Regions from separate parts of the Homo sapiens genome. Here region 2 is linked to region 1. Evidence: fine-mapped expression QTL. A gene starts in region 1. The other region holds a variant in brackets. All regions are shown on one strand. Distances are between the middles of the regions. Region 1 holds the start of USP34-DT (USP34 divergent transcript). Region 2 overlaps USP34 (ubiquitin specific peptidase 34).

Evidence for each region.
Region 2: its variant is fine-mapped to the expression of USP34-DT in whole blood (INTERVAL, PIP 0.99).

What each region holds. Positions count from the first base shown.
Region 1 is chr2:61,466,055-61,474,386 of GRCh38, forward strand. It overlaps USP34-DT (USP34 divergent transcript), which reads left to right and starts at 5,042. Exons shown (of 3, transcript NR_185882.1): 1 at 5,042-5,325. It overlaps USP34 (ubiquitin specific peptidase 34), which reads right to left and starts at 5,033. Exons shown (of 80, transcript NM_014709.4): 1 at 4,596-5,033. The coding sequence starts at 4,638. RefSeq lists enhancers at 1-283, 812-1,311 and silencers at 4,355-4,774, 4,865-4,944, 4,975-5,284.
Region 2 is chr2:61,394,408-61,402,739 of GRCh38, forward strand. It overlaps USP34 (ubiquitin specific peptidase 34), which reads right to left. Exons shown (of 80, transcript NM_014709.4): 4 at 776-826; 5 at 446-595. Among named protein-coding and RNA genes, the nearest start is that of SNORA70B, 19 kb to the right of the region's middle. The variant G/GGGGGAAGGAGGCGGAAGCA (reference allele first, on the strand shown) is at 4,081.

The sequences.
Region 1 (8,332 bases):
GATTTGTTAAAGAATATAAAATTACAGTGAGATAGAAGGAATAAGTACTACTACAGAATGACTACGGTTAACAATAATATATGATACAAGCCGGGCATGGTGGCTCATGCCTATAATCCCAGCACTTTGGGAGGCCAAGGCGGGCAGATCACTTGAGTTCAAGAGTTCAAGACCAGCCTGGCCAACGTGGTGAAACCCCATCTCTACTAAAAATACAAAAATTAGCCGGGCTTGGTGGCACATGCCTGTAGTCCCAGCTACTTGGGAGGATGTGGCAGGAGGATTGCTTAAGCCCAGGAAGCGGAGGCTGTAGTGACCCAAGAGCATACCACTGCACTCCAGCCTGGGCAATGGGAAAGAAACCCTATCTCAAAAAAACAATAATATATGATACAGTTTCAAATAGCTAGGAGGATACTGAATGTTCCCAAAGCAAATGCTAAATGTTTGAGATGGATATACTAATTAACTTCAACTGATCACTATACGTTTTATGTATTGAAACATCACTATGTACACCATGAATATGTAAAATTATTATTTATCAACTAAAAATTTTTTAAACAAAATTTTTAGGCCAGGCATGCTGGCTCACTCCTGTAATTGCAGCACTTTGGGAGGTACAGGCAGGCAGATCCCCTGAGGTCAGGAGTTTGAGACAAGCCTGGCCAACATGGCAAAATCCCACCTCTACTAAAAATACAAAAATTAGCCAGGCAAGGAGGCGGGTGCCTGTAGTCTCAGTTACTCAGGAGGCTGAGGCAGAAGAATCACTTGAATCCGGGAGGTGGAGGTTGCAGCTAGCCGACACTGCATTCCAGCCTGGGTGAGAGTTAGACTCCGTGTCAAAAAAAAAAAAAAAAATTTATTACACTCGTTTGCCCAGGTAGCCTTCTCTAAGTGTGATCACTGTTTGTTAATTTCACAAGAAACAGTGTTTTTGGTTTGTTTTTTCAAGACAGCAGTCTTGGCCAGGCGCGGTGGCTCACGCCTGTAATCCTAGCATTTTGGGAGACGGAAGCGGGTAGATCACACGGTAAGGAGTTCAGACCAGCCTGGCCAATATGGTGAAACCCCGTTTCTACTAAAAATACAAAAATTAGCTGGGCATGGTGACGTGTGCCTGTAATCCCAGCCACTTGGGAGGCTGAGGCAGGAGAATTGCTGAACCCAGGGAGGCAGAGGTTGTAGTGAGCCGAAACCGTGCCACTGCACTCCAGCCTGGGTGACACAGCGAGATTCTGTCTCCAAATAAAAAATAAAAAAATAATAATAATAAAAAAAGCAGTCTTACTATGTTGCCCACGCTGGTCTCGAACTCCTGGCCTCAAACAATCCTCCTGCCTCAGCCTCCTGCCGAGGCGGGATTACAGGGGCGCACCACCACGTCTGACTGTTTTGTGAGGTTGCTTTAATACTAATTACGTATTTTTCAGCATGACCTGGAAACACACCACCCAAAAATATGCACAATTTTATTGCTTCTCTCAGCTGGCTAAACTGTTACAGGGTGTCGTATTTAAAGATGAATTCTGAGCACATTTTGGGAGGACTGTAACTTTGTTTTTTTTTTTTTTTTTTTTGAGATGGAGTCTTGTTCTGTGGCCGAGGCTGGAGTGCAGTGGCATGATCTCGGCTCACTGCAACCTCCGCCTACCAGGGTTCAAGCAATTCTCCTGCCTCAGCCTCCCAAGTAGCTGGGACTACAGATGCCTACACCACCACACCCGGCTAATTGGTGAATTTTTAGTAGAGATGGGGTTTCACCATATTGGCCAGGCTGGTCTCGAGCTCCTGACCTTGTGATCCGCCCACCTCGGCCTCCCAAAGTGTTGGGAATACAGGCGTGAGCTGTATTCAGAGTTGCCCGGCCAACTCTGAATTTCTAAATCAACGTTGAACTGATGCTCATCTTTGTACAAGGTACAGGCGGGAAAAGGGCAGACTTTATAGGTAATTACTGCAAATGAGATCACAAGAAACACATATAATCTACTTCAACAAGTTTTATCAAGCTCCAACCACTCATGTTCATTATCATGCTCCATCATAGCCACGGATAAGCAAAGAACTACAGAAAAAAAAACAACTTTTAATAGTGTGGTATAAACTACACATGTAATTGTTGAAGTAAAAAAAATGTTTTTTGAGACAAAGTTTCGCTCTTGTTGCCCAGGCTGGAGTGCAATGGCACAATCTCGGCTCACTGCAACCTCCGCCTCCGGGTTCAAGCAATTCTCCTGGTCAGCCTCCCCAGTAGCTGGGATTACAAGCATGTGCCACCACGCTCAGCTAATTTTGTATTTTGAGTAGAGACGGGGTTTCTCCATGTTAGTCAGGCTGGTCTTGAACTCCCAACCTCAGGTGATCCGCCAACCTTGGCCTCGCAAAGTGTTGGGATTACAGGCGTGAGCCACTGCGCCTGGCCGTAAATTTTTTTAAAAAGGAAGCATCACTGTGAGATTATTGTTTAAGAGTTAAACTTTTAAATTGAGCCTCAAAGGCAATATTAAGAAACTAAGTATTTTTAGAGTCCACTGGCTTACACACAAATAGAAAATCCTTACTTGTTCATTAGAACAGGTTTCTTAGAGGGTGCACATGACCAGATTTTGAGAAGCTGGTTGAACTAACTGTATTTGCTTAAAGGTAATAAAAGCTAAATTCTATTTCAATTCTCCACATTTCTAACACTCCATAAATGCACTGCATTTTTCAGTGCTTCTAACCAAAGTTCTAGGGGTTTCCCAGATAATCTTAAATAAGACCTTTCATTATGATCAAGATGCCACCTCTTTTCAAAAGATAAACCAACTTTACTTTCTTTAGATGTTTTGTTTAAAATTTTCCAAGTTTAAGATATTTTAAAATCAGCCAGGCGCAGTGGCTCACGCCTGTAATCCCAGCACTTTGGGAGGCCGAGGCAGGCGGATCACAAGGTCAGGAGCTCAAGACCAGCCTGACCAACATGGTGAAACCCCGTCTCTACCAAAAATACAAAAATCAGCCGGGCATGGTGTGGGGAACCTACATTTCCAGCTACTTGGGAGGCTGAGGCAGGAGAATCGCTTGAACCTGGGAGGCAGAGTTTGCAGTGAGCCGAGATCATGCCATTGCCCTCCAGCTTGGGCAACAAGAGCAAAACTCTGTCTCAAGAAAAAAAAAAGATATTTAAAATCACCAACAAAATTAAGTACTTGTTCCTCATATTACATTGCAAAACGATTAACTTTCCAAGTTGAGCGTAACAATCATAATCACACGACTTGTATGTGAGATATAAAACACAGTAAGTATTGAGGATTTAAGTTTATCATATCGTAAACCGCCTGCGCCAGAAATAAAAGTATCTCAAAATACACACAAATAATCTTAAAATTCTAGGATAATTTAGGGTGACACAAATACTGGAACCTCTAGTTGGAATATGTGCAAAAGCCTATTCCACCTATCAGGAAGTAAATACGGAGTTGAAATTAAGTTAGAACCCTTCCACTTTTATTATTGTCTTTGGTCATTAAAGTGACAGTCAAACACAAATACCATGGTACATTTTATAAATCAACTGTTTTAGCGAATTGTATTACAAAATTAGATAGTCTGAAAGTCTGTGGAAATATCACAAACAGAATACAAATCCAAAACCCACATAAACTGTTCATAAGTGAGCATTTTTTCAACAATCAACTTTTTGTAAATTGATCCCTTCATCTAATTCACCTCTGCCAACTAGGCCTTTACGCCCAGAAGTAGTTGATTTGCAATATATCTTCTATAAGCTGAAATACCATCTTGCAAGGGTCGAGAATAAAATAAAAAGGCCAGAAAAGATCAACGTACCCTTTTTAATAATAAAAAGTAAAGTACCAGGTAAAAGGCCTTTCCTTCCAAGAGAGATAGGCCATAACTATCCCGGGATGGTATGTGTAGTACAGTGCTCTGCTTAACAGAATGTACCATTAAAGCGGTGAATGCTACACTAAGAAACATCATTAACAAATTTATTTTAAAAATAGGTATGAAGGTTCCAATCATCACTATCACAGTTCGTTTTCAGCTATTTAAGGTCTGGCTGAAGTGTTTAAGACACCCACAAACCCGCAAGGGAGGGAAAAACCACCACCCTGCTCCCGGGAGTTTAATGAAAATTAGCAGGTAAGAGAGGCCTCGGCAGCACGCTGGAAATCAAAGAGGGCGGCCGGAGGATTTGGACTGCGGAGGAAAGCCTCGTCCTCCGACCCCACCTCCCCGCACCTTCCCGGCAGGGCGAAGGAGGCGAAGGCGGCGAGGGGTTCATTACTGCCTTCATTAATTGACACCTGTAATGAGGAAACTTTCCGAGAGCCCAGAGCGCCCGGGCCAGGCCGAGCCGGAGCTCCGCGGCGGCCGCCTCTCGGGCGCCCAGGTAACCCGGCCGGGCTGGGCCCGAGGCGCCGCGGCGGCCGCGCCACCGCGCACCTTCCCGGGGCGCTAGGCCCGCACGCCGCCCGGCCCGGCCGTCGCCTCCCGCAGGCCGCGGCAGCCCGGGGAGGCCAGAGAGCTGCGCGAGGACCCCAAACCGTGCACCCCGACAGGCCGCTACCGCGGCTACTTACTTTCATTTAACACCTCCACCAGGTCTGCGCAGTTCTCGCACATCGTTCGGCCGCCGCCCCCCCCCTCCCCCGCTTCGGATCACACTGACTGATCCCGACCGGCGGGGGGGAGGGGAGAGAGGCGGAGGAGGGGGCCGGCCGGCCGGCGGGGCGGGGAGGCGACTAGGGCGGGCGGCGGCGGGGACGGGGCGGGGAGCAAGAGAATGGGGGAGGGGGCCGGCGGTCCCCGCAGCGGGAGGGGGAGAGGAGGGGAGCGAGGGGAGGTGCGCAGGCCGGAGGGGCGCCGAGGCGCCGGCGGCGGGGAAGGGGGGGAAGGACGGGGGGAGGGGAGAGGGGGGGAGGGGGCGGGTGGGGAGAGAAGCAGCAGAGTCACTTCACCGACCAGACGCCGCGGCCACCGCCGACGCCGCCGCCATTTTAACAGAGCGCTCGGGCTGCGCTCGGCTCTTTCCGCCCGGGCTTAGGAGCGGACGAGAGGCGCCTCGCGCTCTCATTCCTCCGCCTCCCTCCCTTTCTCGCCTCTCCTCCGCCCCCCACCTCTCCCTCCGCACACACGCCGCACGCTCCACACCCCGCCGTGGCCGGCTCGCCGCCCTCCCTTTCCTCTTCCGTCCGGCCTCCCCGCCCTCGGTCCACCCCCTCCGCGCGCTCGCCCACCCCGCCCAGCCCGGATCTCTGTCAGCGGCCGGAAGGGAAACGCGAAGCCAGCGCGGCCGCGGGGGGAGTCCGGGTGAGTAGGAGAAGATGGCGGAGGCAACGGACGGGTCGCGGTTGCGTGGCGTCGCCCACCACGACCCACTCCACGGGCTCTGAGGCCCGGGGAGCGCCAGGTCACTCGCTCCGTCCTGTCCCCCGCCCCTGGGCTTCGCCATTTTTCCCCAGGGCCTGGGTCGGGGAGTTGGTGCGGGTTTCTTTGGTGTCCCCGGCCTCTTCCGCGCTTAGGCTTTTGGGGTACGGGAAGCAAGGAGTCAACTTGGGTGCCGGGCCGGGTCTACGCCGTAGCCCTCTTTCGGGCGCAAGGGCCACTCCCCCCGGGGTCTGAGAGTGAATCAGCCCAGGGCCCGGCTTAACTGCATCGGTGATTATCGCTACCCTGCAGTTCCTTGAAGGTCCTCCGTCCTGGAGCAGTAAGATCCTTGACGTAACTAGAAATGGCAGGGTAAGGAGTGTTTGCCTGACATCGTCTCGTTTTTACGGAAGAGGGCCCCTCACGATGTGCCCATCAGCCCCACCTGAAATAGCAAGAAATCTTCTTCAGCAGAGAGCGAATAACAAGGATATTAAGATAAAGAACAGGTGAAGGGGGCAGTCAGCTGAAGCTTGTAAGGGAATTTTCCTCACGCCGGCACTTACCCCTTGCTTGCTAATTTTTGTGTTCAACGTGTTTACATAGACATGTGACTGCAAAGTCCGAAAGATCGTGTACAGAATCTCTGAACGGTAACCAGAGTGTCTGTCAAGGCTCTGTAGTCATTCTCTCGATAGCTTTTGTGGAGGTTATGGCACGCCCATCTCTCCATGCCAGAACCACCTGGTTCCAAATGCTTTGCCTTTCTGCTGCTTGAAGTTGATACTATAAACAGTCTGCCCAACCCGTTTTGTTTCCCACTAGCAGGTGATCCTTAGGATTGTAGTTCTATTCTACCATCATCTTCCCTTCTTCCTTGTCTTTCTCACAGAATTGGGTTTTTGCAGACTTACTTTGGATCCTGAGGCAGACATTCGTTGTCCACTCAACATACATTCCCACGTATCCCTTTTTTCCCTGCCAACACAACCCCAATTATTTTTATTTGAATTTTTTTTTTTTGAGACAAAGTCTCACTCTGTCGCCAAGGTTAGAGTGCAGTGGTGCGATCACAGTTCACTACAGCCTCCACTTTATGGGCTCAAGGGATCCTCCCACTTCCCTAGTAGCTGGGGCTACAGGCGCTCTCCACCACACGTAACTAATTGTTTTTTATTTTTAGTAGGGACAGGGTCTTGCTATGTTACCCAGGCTGGTCTCAAACTCCTGGCCTCAACTGATCCTCCGGCCCAAAATGTTAGGATTACAGGTATGAGCCAACGTGCTGGTCTCACGTTTTTTCAGGTAGCAGTTGAAACCAACCATCATGGTGATCTGGCTTTTCTAGGGCTGGCCATACATAATTGAGTTCCTCCTGATAAAAGGTAAGCAACAATCCTGAGAAACATAGTGGGAGCCCTGTGTCTACAAAAATTTAAAAGGTGGCTGGGCGCGTTGGCTCACTCCTGAAATCCCGCACTTAGGGAGGCTGAGGTGAGCAAATCACCTGAGGTCGGGAGCTCTAGACCGGCCTGACCAACATGGACAAAGCTCATCTCTGCTAAAAATACAAAATTAGGCATGGTGGTGCATGCCTGTAATCCCAGCTACTCAGGAGGCTGAGGCAGGAGAATCGCTTGAACCCGGGAGGCAGGGGTTGCGGTGAGCCGAGATCGCGCCATTGCACTCCAGCCTGGGATAAGAGTGAAACTCCGTCTCATAAAAAAAAAAAAAAAAAAAGGCCAGGCATGGTGGTTCATGCCTGTAATCCCAGCGCTTTGGGAGGCCGAGGCGAGAAGATCACTAAATCAGGAGATTGAGACCATCCTGGCTAACACGGTGAAACCCCGTCTCTACTAAAAATACAAAAAATTAGCCAGGCATGGTGGTGGGCGCCTGTAGTCCCAGCTACTTGGGAGGCTGAGGCAGGAGAATGGCATGAACCCAGGGAGCAAAGCTTGCAGTGAGCTGAGATCGCGCCACTGCACTCCAGCCTGGGCGACACAGCAAGACTCCGTCTCAAAAAAAAAAAAAAAAAATTACCTGGTCGTGGTGGCTCACGACTATAATCATAGTACTTTGAGAGTCCAAGGCAGATGGATTGCTTGAGCCTGGGAGTTCTACATCAACCTGGGCAACATGGCAAAAGTCCATCTCCAGTACATAAGAAAATTAGTGGAATGTGGTGGTGCACACCTGTAATCCCAGCTACTGGGGAGGCTGAGGTGGGAGGATCACTAGAGCCCAGGAGATTGAGACTGCAGTGAGCTGTGGTCATACCACTGCAGTCTAGCCTGGGTGACAGAGTGAGACCCTCTCTGGAAAAAAAAAGAAATGTAAGCAGAAATCTGCAGGATGGGTTCTTTGGGAAGAATTCCCAAAAGAATTCCTAATACGATGAGGGACAAATTCAGCTAACATACCATTTAACCCTTTCTGCCTGAAACATGGTCTTGATGCACAAAGTAATACCCATCTTGTAATTTTTTTAACAATGAAAACTTTTACCCCATTTGCGATTTCATTGTTTAAAAAATTTGATTAAACAGGCCGGGCACAGTGGCTCACGCCTGTAATCCCAACACTTTGGGAGGCTGAGGCAGGTGGATCACCTGAGGTCAGAGTTCAAGACCAGCCTTACCTACATGCTGAAACCCCATCTCTTCTAAAAATATAAAAAATGAGCCGGGTGTGGTGGCGGGCACTTTGTAATCCCAGCTACTCGGGAGGCTGAGGCTGGAGAATTGCTTGAACCCGGGGGTGGAGGTTGCAGTGAGCCGAGATTCTGCCATTGCACTCCAGCCTGGGCAACAAGAGCAAAAAAAATTCCATCTCGAAAAAAAATGATAAAACAGAATCATAAAGTGTGGATCCCTGATGCATCTTTGAACAACAGTCTATGCTCAGACTGCTTATGTGAGAAAAATAAAATGTATTTTTCTTGGCTGGG
Region 2 (8,332 bases), 72 kb before region 1:
AAATTCAGCCAGGCACAGTGGTGCACACCTCTAGTCCCAGCTACTCAGGAGGGTGAGGTGGGAGGATCACCTGAGCCCAGGAGGTAGAAGCTACAGCCTAAACAACGGAGTGAGACCCTCTCTCTCAAAAAAAAAAAAAAAAAAAAAAAAATAAGTTAAAAAATGAAAATTAGCAAAAGTTTTATGCAGTCACCTATCTTAGATAAAATAGATAATTATAGATAGTCATGACCCCTTTTAGCTTTAAAACAGGTAACTTAATTTTATTCAAATTCTAATCTTAATAATAAAGATCGTTAAAACGTTTCTGTACTCATTTTGTCAAAATAAAAAAAAATTACACATGCAAATCATTCAAAACCTTCCTTTTCAGAGCATAAAATTCATGTTACTGATATGCTAGACATTGCTCCCAAAATTAAGATCAATTCAAAACAATACTTACATTAGACACAACTGTAATAAACGCATGTGCTATAAGAAATGGCAAAGTTTCAGGAGTTCCATATTCAAAGCAATCCTTCATGAGAGAAAGGCCATTTTTCCCACAAAACAAACATACATAACGAAGCAAATGCAATGGTACTTCTACATCCTGGGAAAATAAAGAAAACATGTCATTATTTGAAAACGTACAAATAATTTTTATCTTAGCAATACTGGAAAGATACTGATGAGAAACTCAAAAGACATATATAAATAATAAAACATATGGATGAGGCTTTGTTAAAAAAATAAAATTTTCCATAAAAGAATAAAAAAGGTAAACACTTACATTCATATCACAGAATGCCCCTAATATGTTACTTTCTTGAGTTGATATATCCTAATTAAAAAAAAAAAAGCAAGTAAAATTAGGTTACAACTACTAACCTTTAAAAAATACAATTCTATAAAAGACTGATTTTATAAAAACCGAATAAACAGATTATTTTGCAATTACTCCTGATAAGCAGTGATACTCCTAACTGAAGCTAATAGGATTCAGCTCTAAGGTGTATTTTAGTCCTCCTTTAAGTAGAAGCCATTCCACAGTACATACTACACACTATTTTGCCTTATTAAACATTAAGTAATCTTGCCTTAAAAAAATCAATGTTTAAAATCCCGGCCGGACGCGGTGGCTCACGCCTGTAATCCCAGCACTTTGGGAGGCCGAGGCGGGCGGATCACGAGGTCAGGAGATCGAGACCACGGTGAAACCCCGTCTCTACTAAAAATACAAAAAATTAGCCGGGCGCAGTGGCGGGCGCCTGTAGTCCCAGCTACTCGGGAGGCTGAGGCAGGAGAATGGCGTGAACCCGGAAGGCGGAGCTTGCAGTGAGCGGAGATCGCGCCACAGCACTCCCGCCTGGGCGACAGAACGAGACTCCGTCTCAAAAAAAAAAAAAAAAAAAAAAAAAATCCCAGCACTTTGGGAGGCCGAGGCGGGTGGATCACCTGAGGTCAGGAGATCAAGATCAGCCTGACCAACATGGTAAAACCTTGTCTCTACGAAAAATAAAAAAATTGTCAGTGTGGTGGTGGGCACTTGTAATACTCAGGAGGCTGAGGCATGAGAATGGCTTGAACCTGGGAGGCAGAGGTTGCAGTGAGCTGAAATCACGCCATTACACTCCATCCTGGGTGACAGAGCAAAACTGTCTCAAAAAAAAAAAAAAAGGTTTAAAATAAAACTCAAGGTAATTCTGATAAAAATACATGATAGTTAAGTGGTTTTTGTTTTGAAAAGTTTCTCAACAAACTTTTTCATGATTTTTGAAACTGCTTTGGAATTCCCTAGAGGTATACTGAAGAGTTACACGTGCTTCCATTGCATAAGATTTCAACTGCCTAAAAGCACAGTTATCCATTGTTGGTGAGTATAAGTTCGTATGAACTTTTTGGAAGGCTATTTGGCAATATCCTTCAATATTTAAAATACACATTGCCTTTGACCCAGCAATTCTAGCTTTTTGTTCTAAGGAACTAATCATACTAGTACTGGAAAATATACGCATAACGATGCTCATTAACCCACAATTAGAAACAACTGACATCCATCAATTTGATGGCTAAATGAATGGCATAACCATTCCAGCTAATTTTTTTTTTTTTTTTAGACGGAGTCTCGCACTGTCGCTCAGGCTGGAGTGCAGGAGCATGATCTCGGATCACTGCAAGCTCTGCCTCCTGGGTTCACGCCATTCTCCTGCCTCAGCCTCCAGAGTAGCCGGGATTACAGGCGCCCACCACCATGCCCGGCTAATTTTTTGTATTTTTAGTAGAGACAGGGTTTCACCGTGTTAGCCAGGATGGTCTCGATCTCCTGACCTCATGATCCACCCGCCTCGGCCTCCCAAAGTGCTGGGATTACAGGCATGAGCCACCTCGCCCAGTCCTAACTCTTAAAAATAATAAGGTGAAAAAGGCATGAGGGATCTTTGGGGGATGATGGAAATACTCTAAAATTAGAAAGTGATGATGGCTGCACAACTCTGTAAATCTACTGAAAATAAACTGTATACTTTAATCAAGTGATTTTTAAGGTTACATCTTTAAAATGCTGTCTGAAAATAAGGTAGAATCTTACATACAGACAAAACACCTGTTACATTTCTGAAAGAAAATTTATGATCATGATCTGATGTTCATAATTTTTACGTTTGGAAATATCTCAACTTTTTTTGAGAAGAGAATGAAGAAAAAAGAGAAGTTCAAAGGCCTTTCAAAGTCTGTATTTTGTATATTCTGTATTTAATTTTTCACACTGAGGCCGGGCATGGTGGCTCACATATGTAATCCCAGCACTTTGGGAGGCCAAGGTGGGCAGATCATTTGAGGTCAAGAGTTCTAGACCAGTCTGGCCAACATACTGAAACCCTGTCTCTACTAAAAATACAAAAATTAGCCAGGTGTGATGGTAGGCACCTGTAATCCCAGCTACTTGGGAGGCTGATGCAGGAGAACTGCTTGAACCCAGGAGGTGGAGGTCGCAGTGAGTCACGATTGCACCACTGCACTCCAGCCTGGGAGACAAAATGAGGCTCCATCTAAAAAAAAAAAAAAAAAAATTCACGCTGAAAAGACTGCTTTTGGCCAGGCCCGGTGGCTCACACTTAGAATCCCAGCACTTTGGGAGGCCAAGGCCGGCGAATCACTTGAGGTCAGGAGTTCAAAACCAGCCTGGCCAACATGGTGAAACCGCGTCTCTACTAAAAATACAAAAACTGGCTGTGTGCAATGGCTCACGCCTGTAATCCCAGCACTTTCAGAGGCCGAGGTGGGCGGATCATGATGTCAGGAGATCAAGACCATCCTGGACAACATGGTGAAACCCCATCTCTATTAAAAATACACAAATTAGCTGGGCGTGGTGGCACACACCTGTAGTCCCAGCTCCTCGGGAGGCTGAGGCAGTAGAACTGCCTGAACCCAGGAGACGGAGGCTGCAGTGAGCTGAGATCGTGCCACTGAACTCCAGTCTGGGTGACAAAGCAAGACTTCATCTCAAAGAAAAAAAAAAAGAAATTAACCAGGGGTGATGGCACACGCCTGTAATCCCAGCTGCTCAGCAGACTAAGGCACAAGAATCACTTGAACCCGCTTGGGGGAGGGGGGTTGCAGTGAGTCAAGATTGTACCAATGCACTCTAGCTTGGGCAACAGAGCGAGACTCCGCCTCCAAAAAAAAAGATTGCTTTTAGGTTGAGTGCAGTGGCTCACACCTATAATCCCAGCACTGTGGGAGGCTGACTGCTTGAACCCAGGAGTTCAAGACTAGCCTCGTACTCACGGGCGAGACCCAATCTCTATTAAAAATTTTTAAAAATTAGCCAGGCATGGTGGTGCGTGTCTGTTGTCCCAGATACTCAGGAGGCTGAGGCGGGAGGATTGCATGAACTTGGGAGGTCTAGGCTGCAATGAGCCATGTTCATGCCACTGCACTCGATCATGAGTGACAGAGTGAGACCTGGTGAAAGAGAAGGAGGAGAGAGATGGGGGAGGACAGAAAGAGAGGGAGAGAAGGGGGGTGAAAGGGTAAGGGAGGAGGAGGGGAAAGTGGGGGAAGGACGGAGAAGCGGGGGAAGGAGGCGGAAGC[G/GGGGGAAGGAGGCGGAAGCA]GGGGAAGGAGGCGGAAGCAGGGGAAGGAGGCGGAAGCGGGGAAGGAGGCGGAAGCGGGGGAAGGAGGCGGAAGCGGGAAGAGGGGAAAGTCGGGGGAGGGAGAAAGGGGAGGGAGAAAAGGGAAGGAGAAAGAGGGAGGAGAGAGAAAATAACTGCTTTTATGATCAGAAAGCTAGCTAGAAACTTTCATCTGAAAAAAGCTACCAAAGAAACCCATTCATCATTGCCATCACCTATTTTAGATATTTAAGTTACACTGCTGAAATAAAGTCTGAAAATCATGGATTGAAAGCAATCATACAGAACTCAGAACATTTCAAAATAAACAAAAAATGTCCTTAGAGAAATGAAGTCTCAAAGTAAGTGTTAAACCTCCTAAATCCACTCCTGGCTATGACAACCGGGGCCAGAGGTGAAGCTTTATGTTAATCTCAACGAACTTTTTCATGGTCTTCAAAAAGTCCAGAATTTAAGACCTCCTGTGGTATTGTTAAATACAGAATCATGGACCAGGTGAACCATGCTAGAATCTTAGAGCCACGATTTCTAGTGCCTAACATGGGCACAGCTAAAAAATCTCCTAACGGCCGGTGCAGTGGCTCATGCCTGTAATCCCAACACTTTGAGAGGCCTAGGTAGGTGGATCACGAGGTCAGGAGTTCAAGACCAGCCTAACATGGTCTCTACTAAAACTACAAAAATTAGCTGGGTGTCGTGACGCATGCCTGTAATCCCAGCTACTCAGGAGGTTTCAGCCTCCTGAGAATTGCTTGAATCCCGGAAGGCGAAGGTTGCAGTGAGCTGTTATCATGCCACCGCACTCCAGCCTGGGCAACAGGATCAAAACTCCGTCTCAAAAAAAAAAAAAAAAATTGAGTTCTATCCTGGTATGCAGTGTTACTCAGATTTGATTACATCTATTTTGGTGATTCAGGGGAACTGTTTTGCCACTCTATTTCCAATATGAATACATAAAGCTAGCATCCTAAAATGTTATAATCTCATTTTTTAAGTAGTATATAAAAAATTAACACACATCTATAGGTTAAAAAAAACACTAAGAACAACACTAGGAAGTCTCATTAAAAGACGAATTAACGGTCCCGGGCGCGGTGGCTCATGCCTGTAATTCCCAGCACTTTGGGAGGCTGAGGCAGACGGATCACGAGGCCAAGAGTTGGAGATCACCCTGTCCAACACAGTGAAACCTCGTCTCTACTAAAAACACAAAAAAATTAGCCAGGCGTGGTGGCGGGCGCCTGTAATCCCAACTACTCGGGACGCTGAGGCCGGTGAATCGCTTGAACCTGAGAGGCAGAGGTTGCAGTGAGCCGAGATAACACCACTGCACTCCAGCCTCGGCAACAGTGCGAGACACTGTCTCCCAAAAAAAAAAAAAAAAAGCTGTATTAACAGTATTTTTCAAAAGTTCTTATTTTAGGTAATCGCTGAGAAAGGCTTTAATAAACTTATCAATGATTTTTAAAGTCTTGCATTTTTTTTCCTCAAAAACCTCCCATTTACTACATGAGTTGATCCCATCCTATTTATAGCAGAGAAATTTGGTTATTTTAAAAGAGAAAACAGAGAGAAATAAATGAGTAACTATACAGGAAAGGCAATTTTTTTTTTTTTTTTGGAGATGGAGTCGCATTCTGTTGCCCAGGCTGGAGTGCAGCGGCACCATCCCGGCTCATTACAAGCTCCGCCTCCCGGGTTCACGCCATTCTCCCGCCTCAGCCTCCCCAGTAGCTGGGACTACAGGCACCCGCCACCACGCTTGGCTAATTTTTTCTATTTTTAGTAGAGACAGGGTTTCACTGTGTTAGCCAAGATGGTCTTGATCTCCTGACCTTGTGATCCACCCGCCTCGGCCTCCCAAAGTGCTGGGATTACAGGTGTGAGCCACCGCGCCCGGCCAGAGGAAAGGCAATTCTATGTAAATTAAGAAAATGCTGCTCCATGATCAAACCATGAAGAACTCAATGTCTCAAAATTTTTGCTTAAAAGTAACTCAGTGATGTTGGAATTAGTAGTGATAATTGTACAACGTTGGTATTATTCTAAAAAATACTAAATTGACTGGGCGTGGCAGCTCATCTTATAATCCCAGTACTTTGGGAGGCTGAGGCAGGAAGATTGCCCAAAGCCAGGAGCTCAAAGCCAGCCCAGGAAACAGAGCAAGACCCTGCCTCCTCAAAAAAATTGAAAAACTAGCTAGGCATGGTGGCATGCACCTGTACTCCCAGCTACTTAGGACACTGAAGGTGAAGGGTTACTTGAGTCCAGGAGTTCAAGGCTACAATGAATCATAATTGTGCCAGTGTACTACTCCAGCCTGAGTGACAGAGGAAGACCCTGATTCAAAAATTAAAAAATAAGTCCAGGTGCGGTAGCTTACGCCTGTAATCCCAGCATTTTGGGAGGCCGAGACAGGCAGGTCACAAGATCAAGTGATTGAGACCATCCTGGCCAACATGGTGAAACCCTGTCTCTACTAAAAATACAAAAATTAGCTGGGCATTTTGGGTGCGCGCCTGTAGTCCCAGCTACTTGGGAGGCTAAGGCAGGAGAATCGCCTGAACCCAGGAGGCAGAGGTTGCAGTGAGCCGAGATCGCGCCATTGCACTCTAGCCTGGTGACCAAGCAAGACTCTGTCTCAAAAAAAAAAAAAAAAAAAATTAAAAAATAAAACCTTCATGTATATATTTCATCTGTCTGATTATACCATACGTATATTTAACATAAATGCAGTGGTTTCTCTCCTTTCTACTTTTTTAAAGATAGGGTCCCACTCTGTCATGCAGAGGCATGATCATAACTCACTGCAGCTTTGACCTCCTGGCTCAAGTGATCCTTCTGCCTCAGCCTCCCAAGTAGCTGGGACTACAGGCGTGCACCACTACGCCCAGTTAATTTTTTTTTCTTTTGTAAAGATGAGCTCTTGCTATGTTGCCCAGCCTAGACTTAAACTCCTGGCCTCAAGTGGTCCTCTTGTCTTGGCTTCCAAAAATGCTGGGATTACAGGTGTGAGCCACTGTACCTGGCCCTATTTTTTTTTTTTTTTTTTTTTTTTTTGAGACAGAGTCTCACTCTGTCACCTAGGGTGGAGTGCAGTGGCACGATCTCAGCTCACTGCAAGCTCCGCCTCCTGGGTTCATGCCATTCTCCTTCCTCAGCCTCCAGAGTAGCTGGGACTACAGGCACCCGCTACCACGCCCTGCTAATTTTTTTTTTTTTTTTGTATTTTTAGTAGAGACAGCGTTTTACCGTGTTAGCCAGGATGGTCTCGATATCCTGACCTTGTGATCCACCTGCCTCAGCCTCCAAAAGTGCTGGGATTACAGGCATGAGCCACCGCGCCCGGCCCATTTTTATAATCTTTTTCCCTATACTTAGAAAAAAACTTACAACACTAGAGCAATTATCTGATTTCACAGAATTACACATAATTATTCAGGATAAAAAATGCAACTAGCATGGCAAGGCACTATGGCTCATGCCTGTAATCCCAGCACTTTGGAGGTCAAGGCAGGAGGATCACCTGAGGCCATGAGTTCGAGACCAGGCTGGTCTCGATAAACCCCATAAACACAGATAAACCCCATCTCTTAAAAAAGTAATAATAAAATAAAAATAAACTTAGCCAGGCACTGTAGTGAATGCCTAGTGTCCAAGCTACTCAGGAGGCTGAGGTGGGTGGATCGTTTGAGCCCAGGAATTCAAGGTTATGGTGACCAATGATCACACCACCGCACTCCAGCCTGGGAGACAGAGCAAGACCCTGTCTCTTAAGGGGAAAAAAATTAAAACTAGGCCATTCCCCCTTTTGATCCTGAATTAGTACTACTTATGTCCAATTACCGAACCTTTTAAAATATCAGCTTTGATGGGGACAATAGGAAAGAGAAGAAGGAAGGGAGACAGAAGGAGTGGCTCCAAGTTCCCATATTATTTAGAATACAGTAATTAGTTCAAAATGATTTAGAAGTAGTGCAGTAGAGTAAGACCCGGATTCTAGGACTCTTCTCAGCAATATGCCCAATCAAATCTTTTAACCTCTGTAGGCCAGTTGCTTCTTCTATAAAATAAAAGTGTTGAGTAGGTTTCTAAAGACACAGCTATCAAAATACTAACACATGAGTTTTGAATCTTGTCCTCCTAAGAATTTTGGCTAAGTTGTGCCTCTTTAAAAAATATTAACGAAAAATCAAAATCAAAGGCTTAAGAAAGGATAGCACAGCAGCACAA